Homo sapiens: one gene and its partners. The protein of the gene in region 2 interacts with the protein of the main gene of each other region in a biochemical or structural test. Each region holds a gene or a part of one and is shown on either strand. Other genes may lie near its edges.

What was found. The genes of interacting proteins can lie anywhere in the genome.
Region 1: the proteins of ARHGAP21 (region 2) and GRIP1 interact in a test that uses a peptide from one of them, tested with the Homo sapiens proteins (one large-scale study listed by IntAct).
Region 3: the proteins of ARHGAP21 (region 2) and PLEKHH2 interact in a test that uses a peptide from one of them, tested with the Homo sapiens proteins (one large-scale study listed by IntAct).
Region 4: the proteins of ARHGAP21 (region 2) and KIRREL1 interact in a test that uses a peptide from one of them, tested with the Homo sapiens proteins (one large-scale study listed by IntAct).

The regions. Positions count from the first base shown.
Region 1 is NC_000012.12:66,669,077-66,672,576, reverse strand, and holds part of GRIP1 (glutamate receptor-interacting protein 1), read left to right. Parts: intron 1-3,500. UniProt on the Homo sapiens protein: May play a role as a localized scaffold for the assembly of a multiprotein signaling complex and as mediator of the trafficking of its binding partners at specific subcellular location in neurons.
Region 2 is NC_000010.11:24,594,888-24,598,387, forward strand, and holds part of ARHGAP21 (rho GTPase-activating protein 21), read right to left. Parts: intron 3,123-3,500; coding exon 3,058-3,122; intron 2,697-3,057; coding exon 2,560-2,696; intron 1,996-2,559; coding exon 1,853-1,995; intron 1,157-1,852; coding exon 1,001-1,156; intron 909-1,000; coding exon 830-908; intron 304-829; coding exon 230-303; intron 153-229; coding exon 63-152; intron 1-62. UniProt on the Homo sapiens protein: Functions as a GTPase-activating protein (GAP) for RHOA and CDC42. Downstream partner of ARF1 which may control Golgi apparatus structure and function. Also required for CTNNA1 recruitment to adherens junctions.
Region 3 is NC_000002.12:43,699,760-43,703,259, forward strand, and holds part of PLEKHH2 (pleckstrin homology domain-containing family H member 2), read left to right. Parts: coding exon 1-849; intron 850-1,250; exon of another isoform or gene 1,251-1,322; intron 1,323-3,500. UniProt on the Homo sapiens protein: In the kidney glomerulus may play a role in linking podocyte foot processes to the glomerular basement membrane. May be involved in stabilization of F-actin by attenuating its depolymerization. Can recruit TGFB1I1 from focal adhesions to podocyte lamellipodia.
Region 4 is NC_000001.11:158,091,145-158,094,644, forward strand, and holds part of KIRREL1 (kin of IRRE-like protein 1 isoform 1 precursor), read left to right. Parts: intron 1-213; coding exon 214-412; intron 413-2,194; coding exon 2,195-2,302; intron 2,303-2,478; coding exon 2,479-2,618; intron 2,619-3,168; coding exon 3,169-3,246; intron 3,247-3,499; coding exon 3,500-3,500. UniProt on the Homo sapiens protein: Required for proper function of the glomerular filtration barrier. It is involved in the maintenance of a stable podocyte architecture with interdigitating foot processes connected by specialized cell-cell junctions, known as the slit diaphragm.

The DNA of each region.
Region 1 (3,500 bases), on a different chromosome or scaffold from region 2:
CTTTATTAAATATACAGAAGAAAATCTTATTTGCAGATTTTTAAAATAATTATTTGTTTCAGTATCGCATATATCCAAAAAAAAAATGCACCCAGATATTTATTACATGTAGCTCCTTAAAGGATGTTACTGCACCCTTCAAACCAAGGAAACTTTGACCTTGCCATTACAAAAAGCAATAAAAGCAGTGGTCTTGGATGTCTCAGTCAATGATGACCACCTAAATTCAGGCAAAGCTCGGGGTATTAGAAAGTGAGAAAGAGCTTCTTACTAATAATTCCAACTACATTATTAAATAGCTGAATATATGAAGAATACAATAAGTTACATTTGTACTAAGGAAATTTCTATTCATTTTCAAAACAGATGAATTAGGAGAAAAGGTAAAACTAAATATCACTAAAGATATGTTGTCATCATAATAATGGAAACCAATGGAGGAAAACAAATTGATTTACAAATTATTATGCTTTTTAATAAGTTGAAATTATATGTATAATACATGTTTTGTCTTACATCTTCTTCCTAATATTCTGCCCATTTGTGCACATTAGCACACACTTGTCATAGGAAACTGTTACTGTCTCTGTAGTATTTCCTTATGTGGATAATATATCTTTAGTTTGTTTCCCAGTTTTCAGTCTAATACATGATACTGAATTGTCTTTAAAGAATTTATTTTGTGCTTTAAATTGTTGCCTTCATGTATCTTCACTTTCAAGTCTTCTGATACATATTGTCTGAGAAATGTGTTTAGGATACACGTCCCACACATTTTCCCCAAGGCTTTCTTAAGCTAATAGAGGTGGCAGAGAGAAAAACAGTGGGAGAAATAGCGTTTGGATACCGTAATATCTAAAAACCAAAGCAAAGATGAGAGAAGGAGAGGCGAGAAGCAGCCCTTCTGTTTTGTAAGTGGGTCATTGCTGACCTTTGAGAGAACAGTTTTCACAGGGTATTGATGTCCAAACCAGATTATAAGGATTCTCTGCATTAAAGGCAACAAGGGCAGACCACTCTTTTAAGAAGTCTGAAGGTGAAAGTTAGGCTGTAGATGGGCAGCAGCCTGTGGGGGTGGAGGGCGGGGTCATGGGGGATAAGGAAGGCTATTATAGGATGGGAGAAATCTGAGCATTTTTTAAAAGGATAGAACCAGTAGGGAGGTAAAATTTCAAGATGCAAACTAGAAGAGGGATGAACTCTAGAACCAGGCAAGACAGTGTGAGTGTGAGACCACGAGACAGATGGCAGCCAGCTAGAGTGAGCAAGAGGGACACTCTTGTCACAGAGACAGGAAAGCATAGGAAGAAAGACTTTGAGGTGGACATTAAGGAAATTAATCAAACTTGACTTTCTTAGTAAATCAGAAGATGAGTCTAAAATCTCCTATTTTTATGAGCACCCAATTCAGGGGTTTCTAAATTTTTCTCTCCATTGGAATTACCTTGTAACCTTAAGAAAATAATGTTGCCTGGATCCAACCCCAGAGATTGTGATTTAATTGCCTGGAAGTGTGGCCTGTTCTTTGGCATTTTAACACATTCCCCAGGTGACTTTACTGTGTTAGCTGAGTTTGGGAGCCATGGACCTAACGTACTGGCAGCTTCATAGAGATGCTACTAGATATGTTTCAGCCAGAGACAAGCCCAGGAATTTTACTCAGCTGCTAGAAGGGAGAAGCTGAGCAGATATAAGGGCTATGAAACTGCTATAGCCTTCCTGTGACTTTGAGGGCAGAGCCTGTCTGAAAATGGCAGTGGATCCAAAAGAAAGAGACACCATATCTGACTGTCATCACTTCAGCCCCTGCTCAAGAACTACCTTAAGGGAGCTCTGAGCTCTCCCTTAGACTTCTTCAGTTAAGTTAGCCATTAAATGTCTTTAACACCTAAGCCCATTAGAGCCAGGTCTTTCTGTTATTTGCAATCAAAAGAGGCCTGATACAGGTTATAACGCATTTGTGTGTATACATTTTGGTGAGAGTTTTGAAGACATAGTTTAAAAATGACAGTTGACTCAACCATTTGCTGAGTCCACTCCTGAGTTGCTCTCATTCCACAGAACTGTGTGAACACCCCTGCAAATCTGAGCCTGCAGTCCTGTATGAAGTTATGAGCGCCACTGCTAACGTAGGATTTCCAGTGGATCATTTTGTTAAGTCTTCAAGTCTGCCCTCCTTGGCAGTCCACATCAGCATAGACTGGAAGGAATGTTCCATGGGGATGGAAATGAATATTGTAATTTTCATGTGATTTTTTGTCCTTACTATTTAGGGACCTAAGGGCTAACTGATCTCTCCCTTTCTTCTCCCCTTATGCGGAAGGTTATTATATGGAGAAAATAGTTGAAAGGCAGGGTTATAAAGTTTTCTGCTTTGGTTGTATGCGGTGCAATGTTCTGAGCATCTCAGCTCTTCTCATTGCTCCCTCTTCTCTTCTGTTACTTGTCTTCTTTCAATGCTAATGGACATAGCTACTCATGCAAAGGAGTTCACCCTCATTTGTATGGTGCAGAAAGTCTGTTGCCCTAGCCCACAATGAAGAGTAGACTTCATTGGTTAAAGTCATCTTCTATGGAGCCAATTGTTAAATGTTAAAGAATTTTTTGAACTAGCTTGTAAACACAATCATTTAAAATTATATAAATTTGCAATTAAATGATATTAAAAACGGAGGTAATGAATACTAACAATTCATCATTTTCTAATCATTACTACATTTTATGTTCTGTGCTCTTGAAGTCTACTCTATCTATGTGGGAGAGCTACTCTATAATGGTGTGCCACACATCTCTTAGCAACTCCACATTCAATGACATCAAGTTGGTAGACTGAAATTGGCCATAGTGGGAGTATTTACACCAGAGACATTGATGGATGCTATAAATCAAGGCATGCCCCGACAAAGCCACTTGTTAAACATTTACCAGCACACCACTGAATAGGTACTCCTGCTCTGTGTATTCATAAACCTGTATAGATGGCTTTCATTATGCTTTCTACATTTGATGATAATTCTTTGTTTATCTGTATACAACCATCAGACTATGAATTCCTTGAAAATTAGTATCCATGCTTTACTTACCATTATGTCACTGGCAAGTACAAAGTATTTGGTACAAAGAAAATGCCCAATAAGTATCTGTCGAATGGATAATGTTAATATTTATTTATTTATTTATTTATTTATTGAGACAGAGTCTCACTCTGTCACCCAGGCTGCAGTGCAGTGGCACGATCTCAGCTCACTGCAGCCTCCGCCTCCTGGGTTCAAGTGATTCTCTTGCCTCAGCCTCCCGAGTAGCTGGGATTACAGGCACCCATCACCACACCTGGCTAATTTGTTGTATTTTGGCCCGGCTGGTCTCAAACTCCTGACCCCAAGTGATCTGCCCACCTTGGCCTCCCAAAGTGCTGGGATTACAGGTGTGAGCCACCATGCCTGGCCAAATGATGTCAATTTTTAAAGATCTCCGGGCTTAACCAATCCCACACATTTGTT
Region 2 (3,500 bases):
GAAGCATATCTTTTAAACTAAAGCCACTAAAAGTACATTTCTTCAATAAGCATTTTACATACCTTATTTTTTTCTGAATTTTCTGCCACTGTCTTCAGATGAGCTGAAAGGAACTTAAGTGTTTCATAATGATGTTCAGGCAAATCGTGAATCTGAAACAGATTATTTTCACAATGGATTCAGAGGCTGAATTTTAGTTGTATCCCCCAAAATATAAAATAATACCTACTAGTCTTTTTAATGTTTTCAGACGATCTAGAGGATCTTCTTTACGATTGGCTTCAATAAAATCAGCATATTTATCTGACGACAAGAACAATAAAACAAATTTATCTTAAATTGCCTAGGTGAATTGTAATCTAGTTTCCCTTTAAGGATCAATTTTAAACCACAACATAGGAAAGAGTTCTAATAGTTTTGAAATGTAAATTTCTAAAATGTAAGTTCCCTGCAGGAACCATCCTATATTTACACAGCCTGTCCATTCCTCCCCCACCCTCCAACAACATCTAGTAAAGTGTCTTACATGGCACTTAAATACTTGGCTTGACTGAAAAAACATTTTTCTACTCATTGTACCTTATGATGTCAGAAGCCATTTGACTGGAAACAATAATATTAATTTGGCTGCAAACATGTATGAACAAGATAATACATATTTCACTGAACCTAAATAACTTTTATGTTTTTAATATATGAGGGAGAACTAAATAAAGCCTCCTGCTTCCTTTGACCAAGACATTTTGTCCTTGTTCAATTTAATATTCTATGGTTTTCCAATTGTAACTTGAACCATTTCATCTGGTATCTTTCACGGGAGTTAACTCACCATTTGTGAAGAGAGGCTCAGGGAGTTTTCTGAAGAAGGATTTTAGTAAACTGCTTATCACATTCAAATCTCGCCATTTCTAGGTGTACAAAATAGAAATATAGTATTTTCATATCCAGTTCCACCAAAGGGGGAAAAAAAAGGATCAGTTATTCAAATAAGCAAACTTACATCATCTTGTATATCAATATCAGCCATTCCCTTGTTGAGTTCTTCTTGCATACTTGAGATGGCTGCATTATTTCCAGGAACTCTATAAATACCTGTATATTCAAGACCTCTTTCTTCAACTAATTTGCAACATATGTCAACTATTAATGGAATATACTGCAAAACAAGAAATAAACATTTTATTTAATGCAGCACAAATGTTTAGTAGTTGTATATCACAGCTAAAATGCCCCTTTCATCCAAAAGGAAACATAAATTGCTGTTATGTAATATAAAGAATACAGACATTATAGATCTGGGAATAGATAAAACCTGCAAGAGATATTTGAGACAGTAAGAAGAGAACAAAGAGACTGAAAGAAAGAGAGGGACCCCCAGAGAGATAACATTCTAAAAAGGAAGTAACAACAGGTAAAGAGAATGTGGAAACCGTTCCGCTGAATAAAGAGTCAAGAAAAGAGGAGGAGAGAGTAATATCAATTCATGATACGAATCCTAGCATGGGTGTTTTAAATATATGCACATACATTTACATGTATTATACTTTCTTAATCAGGTCCTTGTTCTCATCCTTGTTTTAAAATGCTAAAAGCAGAAACACACGATTTGAAGACGAATTCTTACAGACCATTTCAGACAAATTCCTAATGGTTGAATAATTATTCAATTTCGGAGTCAATACATTAGAAAAAAAGCATTACAGGTCAGAAATACTTAGGGAAACTAAGGTCTGCTATGAAAAGGAAAACAGATTGACAGTCTCTGTTGTCTGAAAGGCTATATACTCAGATCCCATTATAATCAAAACTGAATTAATGACTTGAGGAAATCCGGTGGGCTGGTGTCTCCTACCCGATTAGTATGAGCTGGTGGGCAGTCATCTAGTCGGACGCCGAAAGTTCCTGTAGCAGTTGGCTTTTTCTCAAATGTCTTTCTCATGATACTTGGAATGCCTTTTCTCCATGTGCCTTTGTCTTTTGGGGGACTGGTATCATCTTTTGATTGCCAGTCAAAATAAAACAACATAATAAAATGGAAATGAGTGTCTAAATCATGACTTTAAAAACACTTTATCAATGTTTACATAAATCCAAGTCCTGTAATATAAATAATACATCCTATATTTAACAAAAATATGTTCTCTTCCATATAACTTTTACTTCATTCTTTTATAATGCGTGCTATAATTTTCTTTAAAACAGCAAAAAAAAAAACTACATAGAATCAGTGTGTCATCTTTATAGTGAGACTTCAACAAAGGGAAAAGTAATAGTTTTATTTCAAAATGATAGGACCTGAATCCTCGGAGTCATTTAAATTTGTAATGTCTCTGATTTAAGTATTGTTTGTATTTTCCCTCACTTTCGCTTTATAATGAAGCTGGTGTCTTGGGCCTCACAAAGGGAAAGGCCCAATGAGCCCAGACCAAGCCTACTATGAATTTTGAGCTAGTTGACATGGGGCCTGGTCAGTAGAAATGGTACAGAAAACATAAACGTACCTCAACGATGCCAATTTTAAATCATTATATTTATTTGTTAGAAAGCTAACATCAATACCTTTACTGAGAAGTTTCCTTTCCGACTCTTCCTTCGGAGAGTGTGGGCTTTGAGTCTTTGGCTCTGATTTAGCACCAAGCAAAGTTTGCCTGATGCTGAGACTCTGGCGAGGTGTTTTTGGCAACTGTTCTGCTTTGCTGTTGAAGGAAATGACATTTGTTAACAATTACAGTAATCCCCCTCTATCTATGGTTTCAGTTACCCGTGGTGAGCCATGGTCTGAAAATATTAACTGGAAAATTCTTGGAATAAACAATTCATAAGCTTTCAATTTTGTAGTCCTGCCCAGAATAAGAATCATCCTTTCATCCCGAGTAGCCACACTGTATACACTACCCGCCCATTACTATATGGGAAAAAATATAGCGTAGAGAGGATTTGGTACTATCTGCGGTTTCAAGCATCCACTGGGGGTCTTGGAATGTATCCTTGCAAATAAGGGGGATGACTGTACTGATTTTATATCCAAATTAACTGCAGGCAAGGTGGGATTCTCACCTCATCAGATTGTTGTATTCTTTTATTCTTCGACTAATTAGATCCCTGTTAGTGACTCCAGTGTCCTACAGAATAAAGTAAAATTAGAAAATCAATTCTAAACATAAATAAGTGATCCTTACTTTTTTGAGGCTTTCTATTGTACTGCTTTGCTTATTTAACACAAACACTACTATCATCTGTTCTCAGTGGAGCTGTTTCAAAGCTTCTATTCAACATCACTGTGTGAAAGATTTTCCAAGTGCCTCCCAACATTGCCAAAGGGTTTTGCTTCTTTTCTGTATCCATGCGATACCTAGGATAGTACCAGCAAGTAACATGTGTTCAATACTTATTGAATTGATCCGTCCATTTAAAATAAATGACTAGGAAGCAGCCAGTGTTTTCTCTAATACCAGAAAGAATGATCAGCATTTAAGAAATATACGTGTAAGTGATTTTTC
Region 3 (3,500 bases), on a different chromosome or scaffold from region 2:
AGCTTTGCCACAGATGGTGGCATCTCCCAGAATTCTGGGGCTCCTGTGAGTGACTGGAGCTCTGATGAGGAAGACGGGAGCAAAGGAAGATCCAAGTCCAGATGCACATCCACCCTCTCCAGTCACACATCTGAGGAAGGGGTCCAGTGTAGCAGGATGGGAAGTGAAATGTATCTGACAGCATCTGATGACAGCAGCTCTATATTTGAGGAAGAGACTTTTGGCATAAAGAGACCAGAACACAAGAAGCTATATTCTTGGCAGCAGGAGGCACAGTGGAAAGCTCTAAATAGTCCTCTTGGAAAGGGAAATTCTGAATTAAGTAAAAAGGAACAAGATAGTTCCTCGGATGAACTGAATAAAAAATTTCAATCCCAGAGACTCGATTATTCATCTTCATCGAGTGAAGCCAACACCCCAAGCCCTATTTTGACCCCAGCTTTAATGCCAAAGCATCCTAACTCACTCTCTGGAAAAGGAACACAATTAGTGCCTTCATCACACCTGCCACCCCCAAAGTTAAGGATTCCTAATGTTTTCAGTATAAGTGTAGCACTAGCCAAAAGGCACTTAAGCCAGCCACAGTTAAGCTCTGACAGGATGTTTGGTACAAATAGAAACGCTATAAGCATGATACGACCACTGAGACCTCAGGAAACTGATCTTGATCTAGTTGATGGAGACAGTACAGAAGTTTTAGAGAATATGGACACGAGTTGTGATGATGGATTATTTTCCTATGACTCCTTGGACTCTCCAAATTCAGATGACCAGGAACACTGTGACTCAGCAAAGAAGGTGGCATACAGCAAACCTCCAACTCCTCCCCTGCACCGTTTTCCTTCTTGGGTAATTATATCACCGCATGTAACACATACGCAGTAGTTTTTTTCTCAACACTTTTTTTTTCTGGGAGGGAGTCTCGCTCTGTCGCCCAAGCTGGAGTGCAGTGGCGCGATCTTGGCTCACTGCAACCTCCATCTCCCGGGTTCAAGTGATTCTCCTGCCTCAGCCTCCTGAGTAGCTGATACAGGCATGCACTACCATGCCTGGCTAATTTTTGTATTTTTGGTAGAGACGGGGTTTCGCCATGTTGGCCAGGCTGGTCTTGAACTCCTGACCTCAAGTGATCCACCTGCCTTTGCCTCCCAAAGTGTCCACACTCATTTTCAAGTTTTACTTTTTCTTTTCTTCTTTCCTTTCAAATCCAGCTTTGTTCTGACGTTTTCCAGTTTTTAGGATAAAATTTCTTCTTCTCTTCCCTCACTGAGTTCTGAATCAATTGAGAAATAAGATAATGACAAGACAGATGGGAGATCAAGGTATTACCTTATTTACTGATAAAACTAATTTTAGAGAATTAGTGGGCAAATGAGCTTTCTAATACTGAACTTTGAGATTAGCTGGATTGAGTCACCTGTTCCCAGGAAGCCCTGGACCACCACAGGATTCTGCTACTGAAGCCATGCCCCTCTAAAACTTACTACCTCAAAAAACAGAACAGATGGTTGTTTCCTGCAGGCAGCTACTTCTCAAGAGAAAGGGGAGAGGAAGTTGCCAGGCTCTGCATGCCCAGTTTCTCCTTCTCAGCTTACCAATCACATTAAGCCACTCTTCCTCTTGGGGAGGGGAAAGTGAATAGGTGGAGAGGGATCAGCAGTGTTCAATTACTGGAGGTTCCTCCATGTGGAAGGAAACATTGGAGGTGGGAAAGAAGGGTTCCCCCTAACTGTGATATTTTGGGTGAATTCTGAACCGGGACACTTAACTCTTGTTAGTTATAAGTTTTTGAACTTAGTCGTTATTTGATTGGCTTTAAGATAAATTTAATTTTCTTTTTGAGCTTATATAGCCATTGGTTTCCAAAGTATCTTTCTACAGACCTAGAATAGATAAAATCTTCTTCCATTGAAACATTGACCATTAGTAGGATAACACTGCTAGACTAAAAAAAAAAAAAAATTCTTCCAATATTTGAAATAAAATGAAATGATCTGTTTAATTTTAATTTTTTTTTTTTTTTTTGAGATGAAGTTTCACTCTTGTCTCCCGGGCTAGAGTGCAATGGCGCCATCTCAGCTCACTGCAACCTCTGCCACCTGGGTTCAGGCAATTCTCCTGCCTTAGCCTCCCAAGTAGCTGGAACTACAGACGTTTACCACCACACCTGGCTAATTTTTTGTATTTTTAGTAGAGGTGGGGTTTCACCATGTTGGCCAGGCTGGTCTTGAATGCCTGACTTCAGGTGATCCACCCACCTCAGCCTCCCAAAGTGCTGGGATTACAGGCGTGTCACGCCACTGCACCTGGTCTGAAATGATCTGTTATAGATTTAAGTTTTTCTTCACATGCTGGCATAATTTAACCTTTGGCCTCCAGAGAAACATCTGGGTTGCAGGACTCTTTTGGTTTTTGGAGTCATGTTCTTTTATTACTATATTTTTTATTTTGTGACTGATGCAGTTTTAAGCAAATTAGGGTGGACATGTTTTTCTAATATAAATTCAGAACTTAAGATGTATGTGCTCTTATTTGCTTTCAAGAGGACATTTTATTTCAATATCCACATGAAACCTTCTGTAGTTTATTACTAAATTTTGGATAGCACAGGAAAGTGGAAGTTAATGGCATGTGAATCTCTGGAATTCTAATTATGTTATACTTTAGGCAGCAAGAAATTGAAATTTTGCCTATCTTATGATGTTGAGATTTTCAGAGATTTAGGTTAGGCTTTTAAGTTCGTTTTATTTGGCAACCCATTCTACTACTTTTTTTTTTTTTTTTTTTTTTCCATTCTGTCTTCTCTTACTCTTTTGAAGCTATTCGGTCCTGAAAAAGTAGTATTGCTTTTCAAAAGCCTTCCAGCAGACTGGCCAAGTCTGAGATTTTATTTCTGTGTTTATTAGGTATTTTCAGGTTTCAAGGAAAAGAGATGTATTCTAATTGCCTCAATAAATATGAGTTTATTTTAAAAATTTCTAAGAGCTTATTTTAAGGCATAGCCTATCCTTATTGAACTGGAATACCATGCAAATTACAATAGTCACTCTAGAGGGACAACATGTGATAGTCAGCAGTACCTCCGATAGAAACAAGTGACATCCATTGCCCCTGCTCCCAGTGGCTCAGCTTGTCCTCCCAGGCCTCCAGTCCCCTCTCTCTAATTCTACTACTAACCACTTTCCCCCAGTCTCCTAGGGCTTCAGACTGCCTCCCGTCTCCTGCTTACTGCCCTTATTGTTATATGTCTTTCTGTTGCTGTTTGTGTGTGGGTGTATCTCACACTCAAAGAAACTACATCTGATTCACTCAGCCAGGCACTATTCAATCGAAAATGTCCCTGATAGTCGGAGAACTCATGCCAGTTGCCTCTCAAGCCACTGGCTGTCTTGAAGAGGATGGCCTTAGTTGCCCACTGTGTCCTGGACAGTCAACTGTGTCCAAGTTAGACCCATTATTAAATTCAGGACATGTTGCTCTATGCATTAGGAACCACCTGT
Region 4 (3,500 bases), on a different chromosome or scaffold from region 2:
AGCCACTGCTTCTCCTTGAGTGGAGTGTCAGTGCCGAGGGTGTGAGGTAGCAGGTGTGACTTAGGTTTGTTACAGGGAGGTGTTAGGCTGGGCTTGTGGGGCACACATGGCACATAGGGGTGAGGGTGCCTTGAGGGTGGATCAGGGGACACGTGGGCATGGGCTTCTGCCCCCTGCCCCTTTCTTACCTTCTTCCTTCCCTCTCCACCACAGGCATGGGCCTGGAAGGAGAACTTCTTGGAGGTGGGGACCCTGGAACGCTATACAGTGGAGAGGACCAACTCAGGCAGTGGGGTGCTATCCACGCTCACCATCAACAATGTCATGGAGGCCGACTTTCAGACTCACTACAACTGCACCGCCTGGAACAGCTTCGGGCCAGGCACAGCCATCATCCAGCTGGAAGAGCGAGGTGACTGGTAGTGCTGCCTGCCAGCTGGGGTGCAGAGCAGCCTGAGGATTCTGCTCCTTCTTTTCTCCAGGGGCAGGGCTCAGCTGCTCCCCTTCCCTTGGGCTCTGCTCTGAGGGAGGGGACACACAGAGGGATGTCCTGGCTGAGAGGTCAGGAGTGAAGGGGTTTGGGGCTACTCCCCTCTGATTCCTGCCTATTGTAAGAGTCTGTGCATCAGAGGGAAAGAACTCTCTGGGGCCTTCCCTCCAGAACCTGGCCTCCATGCTCAACTGGGGAAATGCCCTCACTTCGTTAAAGTGTACTGAGCATTTGCTATGTGCCAGGCTCTGCCCCAGGGGCTGCAGAAAGAGCTGTGAACAAGACACAGTCCCTGACCTCAAGAAACTTTCGGTGTAGTGGAGGAGGGACTTACAGAGTGGTAGTAAATTAATTCGGATGGAGAAGAATCATATGAACTGCAAAAGGGAATAACACGCCCATCTCATTGGGTGGACGTGAGGATTAAATTAGAGAATATTTACAAAATGCCTGGCATACAATAGGTGTTCAGTAAGTATGGGTTCCCCTACCTCTTCAAGAATTGTCACTCTGATAGCAGAAAAGTGTTCTCTCCTTTAAGGCACTTCTCACATGATAAAAGAGGTATTCCTTTGACTTTTTTGGAAGCTACCAAGTCCAAGGAGGAAAAGATAGCATTTTTTTGTTGTTGTTTTATTTTTTGAGAACTAACCATTTGACATAGGAGATGGAGAACCACATGGAAAATGACAGCATCCCATCACTTCAGTCTTTTTTTTTTTTTTTTTTTTGAGATGGAGTCTTGCTCTGTCGCCCAGGCTGGAGTGCAGTGGTGCGATCTTGGCTCATTGCAACCTGTGCCTTCCGGGTTCAAATGAGTCTCCTACCTCAACCTCCCGAGTAGCTGGGACTACAGGCACCCGCCACTACGCCCGGCTAATTTTTTGTATTTTTAGTGGAGACGGGTTTTCACCGTGTTAGCCAAGATGGTCTCGATCTCCTGACCTCATGATTCACCCACCTCGGCCTCCCAAAGTGCTGGGATTACAGGCATGAGCCACCATGCCCGGCCTATCACTTCAGTCTTAACTAAGGATGCCAGCAAGGGGGTTGGGGGTGGGGAAGAATGGAGTAGATACAGTAACGTGGGGCTCCACAGGGAAAGATCTCAGAGGGGAAGAGCTATAAGCAGGATCTGGATTCAACTAGGGCTGCTAGGAAGACAGAGAAGGCTGGAAGCAGGATTCCTGAGCTCTTCCTCAGCTCTGGGAAGCAGAGGAAACCAAGGAAAACTGTTGGAGCCCTGAGTAGATAGGTGAACATTCGGCAGTCACAGTGGTATTATGGATGGCACAGTGGTGAAAGATGTCGGAACACGGGTGGCAGATTGGAGAGTTTGGAGACAGCTGACCTCAAAGAAGAGCGAGGGGCCAAGCATCATAGTCAGGTGGGCTGAAGGACAGGGATCGACAGACAACCAAGACCAGGGGCAAACTCCTGCCCCAGCTGCAGGGATGAGACATGACCATGATCTCCATTCTGATGGAGCTGGAGCACAGACCAAAATCCAACCACAATGCAGACCTTCCTCTCTAATCCAACCTTGACTTAAACCTAACACTGTCCCCAGGCTCAGTCAAAACTTAGCCCTGTACACAAGCCAAGGTTGCCTCTGTGGCTGTGGCCTAGCCTTTAGCCAGCACTGAGCTTAGCTCCCAGTATAACTCCAGCCTCACCCCTCCACCTTTCCTTCCCCATCGAAAGAGGTGTTACCTGTGGGCATCATAGCTGGGGCCACCATCGGCGCGAGCATCCTGCTCATCTTCTTCTTCATCGCCTTGGTATTCTTCCTCTACCGGCGCCGCAAAGGCAGTGAGTATGGGCCCTGTGCAGCCCACAGCCTTCCCCTGGCTCTTCCAGGGCCATGACAGGCAGTGCTTGGGGTGGATGGGAGGTTGGCCCTTGAGCTCCAGCCCAGAGGGAGCCAGAAGCAGCCGCTGCAGAGACCAGCAGGAAGCACTTGTTCCAGGCTGCCTCTCCCGTCCCAGGTCGCAAAGACGTGACCCTGAGGAAGCTGGATATCAAGGTGGAGACAGTGAACCGAGAGCCACTTACGATGCATTCTGACCGGGAGGATGACACCGCCAGCGTCTCCACAGCAACCCGGGTCATGAAGGCCATCTACTCGGTGAGGGTCCTGCTCCTCTCTGGCCTCCTGCCTTCTCCACCCTCTGAGGACCAGCTCCATCCCAGATCTCTAATAACCGCGGTCATTCTCTCCTTCCTCAGTCGGTCTTCCCTGGTCCTGCCACACACACTCTCCCACACTCACACACATTCTCTCACACACGCCCCAGGCTAGTTTCCTCCAGCAGAGGATAGGCAGCTGGGATTGTCCAAAGACTTCCTTTGCCCCACAGTGTGTGAAAGTTGGAAGCCCCCAGAGGCTTTCTGGTCCATCTGCCTCATTGCTGAGATGAGGAAACAGCCCTGGAGAGGGGCAGTGACATATACAAGGTCACATTACATGTTAGCAACCAAACTAGTGCTCGAACCAAGGTCTCTGGCCTCTTCCCACCACATCCCAGAGCCTCTGCTGAGAGGACCAGAACTCAAGTCTGCCCTTGACCTCAGACCCCACCCATGAGCAGGTGGCCTCTGAGCGTGGGGAGGGGTTGGTGAGGGGCGAAAAGAGCAGGGCTTCCGTCTGCTGACGTCCCACTCCTGCTGCTCCACAGTCGTTTAAGGATGATGTGGATCTGAAGCAGGACCTGCGCTGCGACACCATCGACACCCGGGAGGAGTATGAGATGAAGGTGGGAAAGGGGGAAGGGGCCAGGGCATGAGGGCTGGTGGGCCAGTGGGTTTCTGAGGTCCTGTAGCGGGGAGGTGAGGTGAGGACAGACTTGGGGAGGAGTGGTTGGGAGGGTTTTTGAAGGAGCAGAGGAGGTGGAATGCTAGATGGGGACATAGGGAGAGCTGGAGGAAGAGGCCCAGAAAGCCATGGTGAGACTTGATCCCCACCCAAGAGGGAACACTGCCTCCATCCTCTTCTCTCATTGCCCCCAGG